2 linked regions of the Homo sapiens genome follow. The protein of the gene in region 1 purifies or fractionates together with the protein of each later gene. This does not show direct contact. Each region holds a gene or a part of one and is shown on either strand. Other genes may lie near its edges.

The links.
Region 2: the proteins of EXOC3L1 (region 1) and EXOC2 purify together in Homo sapiens (affinity purification with mass spectrometry; one large-scale study listed by BioGRID and IntAct). This does not show direct contact.

What each region holds. Positions count from the first base shown.
Region 1 is NC_000016.10:67,183,879-67,187,287, forward strand, and holds the end of EXOC3L1 (exocyst complex component 3-like protein), read right to left. Parts: coding exon 3,347-3,409; intron 3,261-3,346; coding exon 3,143-3,260; intron 3,007-3,142; coding exon 2,881-3,006; intron 2,780-2,880; coding exon 2,679-2,779; intron 2,470-2,678; coding exon 2,359-2,469; intron 1,613-2,358; coding exon 1,483-1,612; intron 1,381-1,482; coding exon 1,258-1,380; intron 1,180-1,257; coding exon 1,024-1,179; intron 933-1,023; coding exon 808-932; intron 727-807; coding exon 516-726; 3' UTR 501-515; downstream 1-500. UniProt on the Homo sapiens protein: As part of the exocyst, may play a role in regulated exocytosis of insulin granules.
Region 2 is NC_000006.12:686,585-690,235, forward strand, and holds part of EXOC2 (exocyst complex component 2), read right to left. Parts: intron 2,629-3,651; exon of another isoform or gene 2,555-2,628; intron 1-2,554. UniProt on the Homo sapiens protein: Component of the exocyst complex involved in the docking of exocytic vesicles with fusion sites on the plasma membrane.

The sequences.
Region 1 (3,409 bases):
CTCCTCTGCTCGCCGCCCGCCGCTCCCGCTCTGCTACACCGGCCACCGGACGCCCAGCCGGCGGGAGCCGTCGCCGATGACGTACGTCCTCGGGCGCGCGCACGCTCTTACGAAAGCGTGGGGCTTCGCGTCAGTCTCCGCGGCGGCGCGCCCCCGAGGCCACTGGGAGCGAAGCCAGGCAGGGTTGAGGGGGCGGTGTTCGTGGTCCTGGGCCCGCCCCCTTCCCAAGGCCACAGCGAGTTGCTGGGCTTCAGGGGCTCCAGGCGGCCAGGGCGGCGGAGACTCTTGCTCACGGCCTGGGCGCGGAGACGTGGGGGCGTAGCCCGCGGCCTCGGGAACGCAGTCTGCACAGAGGGCAGATGCCTGCATAGGCGGGGCGCAGCCCGTGTACCAGGACGGGAGCCAGGATACTTTAAGCGTGTCACTCTGCAAGAATTCCCTCAACCCTCGTGGGCACTTTTATTCCATCCCACCTTCCCCAACACACACAGACTCAGGCGTCCGGCAGCCGTGGTTTATTCTGCGAGCAGCAGGGCTCGGGCGCAGGACCCCGAGGGCAGGCAGGAGGCCGGCGCGAGCGCGGGCGCGGGCACTAGGCTGAAGAGGACGCGGCGGCTCGCGCGGGGCGACGGCGGCAGCGCAGCCTGCAGGGAGCTGAGCGCGGCCAGGTGCTGCTCCCGGGACAAGTCCCCGCGCAGGCCCAAGAGGGCGGAGACGTGGTCCTCGCTGCAGGGGCACCAAGGAGGCGCGTCAGCCCCGTCCTCCCCGCCCTCCGGCTTCTCTTCCCTTCTGGCCCCCAGTCCGCACCTCACGTCGGGAAATTGTTGCCGCAGGCCAGCCACCTCCAGGCCCAGCAGCGCGGGGTCGCGGAGGTTTAGCAGCTCCCTCAGGGCGAGCAGCACCGGCGCGCAGTGCGCGTTCTCCTCCAGGCCCTGAGCACGTCGGGGTAGGGTCTCGCGCCAGCCCTCTCTCCCACCCAGCCACTGAGACTCTCGCCCGTCTGCCCGCCCAAGAAGCTCTCACCAAACTGAGGAAAAGCTGCTGAAGCTGGGCAGCATCGTGCCGCAGGCGCTCGGCCGCCTGGGTCCTCTCGTCGGCTCCGCGGCACACCAGGCGGCCTTGCATCAGCGCGCTCAGGTACTGGAGCACCACGGCACGCTCGGCCTCAGCCAGCAGCAGCTGCGGGGAGGCAATCAGGCGGGTGCAGGTCGCCTCTCACCCGCGCCGCCCCTTCCCCAATCTTTTCCCCCAACCCACCTGAACCGTGGGGTTCCGCACGCGCCAGAAGTCCCGGCAGAAGCGCCCCGTCCGTTCACACACACTTTGCAGGAGCTCAGGGCTCGACAGCCATTGGCGCGAGGGCAGATCCGCGAACAGGGGCTGGGGAAATGATCCAGATCTGGCATTGCCGCGGAGACCCCCATACGTAGCTGTACCGCCACCTCTCCACCTGCTCCCATCCTGACCTGAAGGAGGCCTCACCTGGAGCTCCGCCTGCAGCGCCTCCAACACCAAGCGGTAGATCCTCCTCTGCAACTCGTCCAGCGCAGCTTCCACTGGAGCCAAGGCCCCTGAAGGCGCCCCGTCCAGCTGCAGGACAGACACTGAGGAGCTGGACCAAGCAAAACTACGGCTTCAGGACCAAGGCCAAGGCCCGCATGGCCCTCGGTGGTCCAGACCCTCCGGCGCCACCTTGTGGGGCAAGTGTTTGACGGGAGGGAGCGAGAACAGCGGCTCTCTGCACTTCTGGTCCCAGGCATGGACCAGGGCTGGGAGACGGGCGCTTGGCGAGCTGCAAAGGACACAGCCCAGCGAGACCTGCCTCAAATTCGCGGTGCGTCCTTGAGGAAAACATTCTTTCGGTTTCTGTTTCCTCATTCGTAAAGGAAGGGAAGTATCCCAGTGAGGAGGGAGTAAAAAATCATCACTTGTTTTCCTTGCCCCCACCAAAAAGAACATACCACCCAAGAGGAAGGGAGTGTGTGTGTGTGTGCGTGTATACACACAGCTGTAACCCCAGACATTACTGGCACAGAGTAGGGCCTTGAAATATTTGCTGGACGAATGAACAATTGACACCATGTGCCAGGCACTATGGTGGCCACTTTACATGTTATCTCATGTGATTCTCAGAACATTCCATTAGTACCCCCATAATACTAATGAGAAAAGTGAGATTCACAGAGATTAGGTAACTCATCCAAGGTCACACAACTAGTAATTAGCAGAACTAGAATTGGAACCCCAGGGCGATGTGAGTCCAAAGTCCCTAGTGTCCTAGTGTGGGCTGAGCCCATACATAATAGGTACTCAATAGGGGGTTAGTGAAGGTGGGGTTCCCTGGGGGCCTTCTGGTACCTGAGTGCTGACTTGTGGTTGAGGGCGGCCAGTAGGTAGGGCACGTAATGAGGGGCCATTGATTTCCCCCTGAAGTGGTCTCGGGAGAATCGGATCAGAGCATCACTGAAGCTGCAATGGGCAGAGGTGGCTCCTGGACTTGCTGCTATGCTGGCATCCCCACAGCCCCAGTCCCTGGTACTCCTGTCCCACCTCCAAGATACCCAAGTCCTTGTTTGAAAGAGCCCTTTCCCTGTGACATGTCTTATTCACTCAGAGCCCCTTTGGGCTGCCTGGGGAGCAGGGATAGGGATCAGGAATGGGTCAGTGCCTCAGCAAACCTCCTCAAGAATGTGCCCAGTTCTGACAGTGCCATGCCATGCACTCGCTGTTGCAGTGACTCACTGACCAGGCTGGCCACACGAATGTTCTCTTCCAGGATCTGCAGGCAGAAATGAGCAGCCATCGGCAAAGCCTCCCTCCTTCCTCTCCTCCCCACTGCCCCATGGAGGCTGCCTGCCTGTCTGGCCACTTCCCACCTACCTGCAGCACAATGGCTGGCATTGGTGAGTAATAGGAGCCAGACGGGTCTGTGTTGGGCCCATGCTCCCGGCCCCACTCAGCTACCTCCCCATCCAGTGCATTCTGCAGCCACTGAGACACACTTGCCTGGGGGGAGGGGCCAGGGGCAAAGGAATGTAGCAGGGATCTGACCCTGCTGGAGATGGGTAGACATTCCACTCTGCAGATAAAGGCCCACAGCAGATAAGTAGGACTTCTCTGGACCTGTGCCTCAACTACTCACCTGGATGTTGGCCACAAATGTTGCCTCCAGCTGCTCAATGTTCTCCAAGGTCAGAAGGGGCTCCAGCTGGGACACATCAGCCTCAGGCCCCAACTCCAGGCTCCCCATCATTTCCTGCCTGGAGATAGGTGGCCTGGTGTCACACCAAGCCACCAAGCCCCCAGCCTCTGATCCCCCATGTCCCGCTGCCCCAAAGGCACTGACCCCAGGTACACATGCAGTGCCCAGTGCAGCAAGGCGAAGGCATCCGCAGCTTCTAGCTCAGGC
Region 2 (3,651 bases), on another chromosome or scaffold:
CAGAGCCCCCATAAAAGAGATCTGTTATATATATACCGGATTACTCAGCTGTTCTCATAAAACAAGCACTGGATTCTATCTTAATTGGAAAAGTTACTTAGAGGTCTGCTTTATTCCCCCAGGAACCATAAAGCCCTCTGCCTTAGCATGCCATGTCTCCTCCTAGAGGACAAGGACTGTCACTATGTTGCACAGGGAAAGGCTGCAGGTCTAAAGGTGACTGGACTTCCAACCGATGCCACTGGACATTGATGACATGTCAAAAATGAACCAGGCCAGTGCAAATTCATCCCCCTCCATCCACCCCCAACAAATAAATGAAGACAAAAACTTCAAAGAAGATACACTACTTAATAGGAAAACAAAAGAGTTTCATACAAGAGCACAGCATTATTTATTCACAAATCTATTGCCAGTAGTACCCAATGCCCTACTACTCTTATTAGATCTATATGCATAGATAAAAACAGTAAGTCTTAGTATTTTAGGAAGTATAGTTTTTCAGAAAAAAAGATGTCAGGGTTTTATTTTCCCAGAAAGACAGATCACCTGAACAAGATTGAAGAAGTCATTATCAAATAATATTCTTTTTTTTTTTTTTTTTTTTTTTGAGACAGGGTCTCACTCAGTCACCCAGGCTGCTGGAGTGCAGTGGTGCAATCATAGCTCACTGCAGCCTCAGGTGATCCAGGCTCAAGTGATCCTCCCACTTCAGCCTCCTGAGTAACTGGGACCACAGACATGTACCACCACACTCGGCTAACTTTTTTCTAATTTTTGTAGAAAAGGGGCCTCATTATGTTGCCCAGGCTGGTCTCAAACTCCTGGGCTCAAGCTATCCTTCCACCTCGGCCTCTCAAAGTGCTGGGATTACAGGCACTGAGCCACTGAACTTATCCTCAAATAATATTTATTTGTATCTTTACCTAGTCCGTCAAGATGATTTGCGATACAATGACTAGTCACCCAGATCCTCAAAAGATGACAGTATTGGACTCCTATACCCCAGAAAAACAGAAAAACTAGGGCTGTGAAAAGGAAACATCCTTGGATTTATTCAGTCAAATAAATGTTTATTATACACTTGCTATGTCCCAGGCATTACCCTGAAGAAATGACAGGAACAAGATTTTGTGACCAGAAGCTCAAGAATGACTTTGGCCTTCAGGAGAGTGATCGTAGCTGAAACCAGACAGCACTGGGATGGGTGAGAAGTTGGCTACAAACAACTATTTTAAGAAATGTGGCAGGAAAGTGAAAAAGAGAGGAATTTTAAAAGGGCAATGTGAAATCAAGGGAGGATTCTAGTTTTTTCTGTTTTACTTTATTCTTGTCTGTCTCTAAGCATGTATAAAGGCCAACAGAAGGAAGGCTTTAGTAAGACATGAACACCTGAGTGAAGTCCTCACAAAGGCGGGGTAGATGGGATCCACAGCCCAGGTAGGAGATTGGTCTTAGCATAAATACAACCTCTTCCACTGTGACTGGGGAGGAGGAACAGTTTTTGGCAGGAAGCCCCTGCGATTCTCCACTTACATCTCTTTCATTTATGATGTAGGTGGCAAGACCGCTTGCTAAGAGTGTGTGTAAATGATGTGAAAGGATGAAAGGTTCGAAAAGCGTGAAAATGCTGAAAAGTACATTCTGCAGAGATAAGAAGCGGGTACTGATGAGGAAAATTCTGGAAGATTCCTTGATGGCCCAGCTGAGCTGGTGACCATGGATTTATAGGGGCACAGATCTGGATACTGTGATTTTCCCCAGCTGGCCCCAGCAACTCAGGTCAAGCATTACAGGAGGCAGAGAGTTGAGACTGCCCAAGGCTGAGAAGCTGCCAGGCAGATGCTACAGAACAACAACGATACAACTGAGCACACTGGCATGACAGTGACTGAAGATCACAGAAGCGCCTGATAGATGCAGTGGGGGTGAGTGAGACTGAGAAAGTTGAGGGACTATAAGCAAACAGTGGGAGGCCTGCACTTTGGATTTCAGAAGTGGACCAGTTCCAACACTGAGGCAGTTCGGTGTTACTCTTCCAGCCCCCAGCACTACTTCTCTGGCAACAGTCGGATCCTCCTCCAGACAGCCCTACTTTCTCCTTCTGTCCTTTCTGGTTACTGTTAGCTTCCCTTTGCTCCTCACCACTCCTTGTATATTCCCTAATCCCCTCTGCACCTTTCTTCATTTGAGCTATCTGGCATGACTTCTGATTCCTGCTGAGACATACATCATTATCATTCACATGGGGTTTTCATTAAAATTAAACTAAAGCCAAACATGGCCTTTTGTCTCGTTTTGTCTTTTGCTAAAATTATAATACAATGAAAGTTAAATCATATGCCCTCCAAAATCACAAACCTTTAAAATGAGAAAAGGCCTTTAAAAATTCATCCATGCTTACAAATGAAACGAAGGGGCAGCCTTGTGCAAAGTGGCACTGTTAGCAAGCAGTAAAGGGAAAAAAGCCTTCAACGCTGCACTTGTCACTGAGTGCTTAAGATGTGCCGGGCACTAGTCTTGAAGCTCTCTGGATCCACCCTGAGCAGCTCACCTTCTCCTAAGCTGAAATCCAGTCTTCCCCAGTCCTGTGTCCAGTGTTCGTTCCATTATTGGCACCAAGATTTACTGTGGAAAATATTACATAGAAAAACTGATAAACCCAAAAACAAAAATAAAGCAAACTGGATGATGTATTTTTAATCTGAAATGCTACCAAGGGAATTAAGGTAAAGGATGTTCAGGAAGCTTTTGAGCTGGCCTAATAAAACTTTCCAGGAAAAACAAACAACAAAAAAGAACTGTCTAACAAATCAGTTCCAAACTCTTCTGCCTGTCAGTCAAGGCACTCCACCCATAATCCAAAATGCACTCACTTACCAGCCCCTGGGCCTTTGCTCCTGGTATGCAGCCCAGGTGTTCACACGCCTTCCTTCATCAAGCTCTTATCATCAAAGCTTCCCAATTACTCTAGCCCCAACGGATCCTTCCTACCTCTGAGCTTCTGCTGGACTTACACTCAATACTACAGAGTTTAGTTCTTAGCTATTCTTTAATTGAGAGGGCAAAAATACCCCTTATGAATCCAGGCTAATATTATTTGATTTTTAATATATGTGTCAGGCATACAGTAAGACTGGAAGATACAAAAATAATTAAAACTAATCCCGATCCAGAATGAGCTTAGTCTTTTACTGGTGTATGTAAACACCATTAATAATATTGTCCCTAACACAACACAAGTGCTATAAGACAAGTGCTAGGTGGTTATAGGATTCACTGAGTTGGAAAATTTCAAGGCAGGAAGGATTTCAGAGATAATCTAACTGCATGTATTCTCTGAATACACAAAAAAGGAAACAGTCCAAAGCATCTAAGCAACTCAGCCAGTACTATGAAGCAGACCAGATTAGACCAAGGACCAGTGTATAGTTGCTTTGACGCCTAAGCCAAAAATACCTTTTGACTCTGTGATTTTCAAATTGAGATCAGCCAGGCACAGTGGGTCACACCTATAGTCCCAGCACTGGGAAGCTGAGGCCAGCGCATCACTTGCATTCAGGAGTTCAAGACCAGCCTGGGCAACGTAGGAAGACCTCACCTCCACAAATAATTTTTAAAATGAGCCGAACCCGGTGGCACGCACCTATA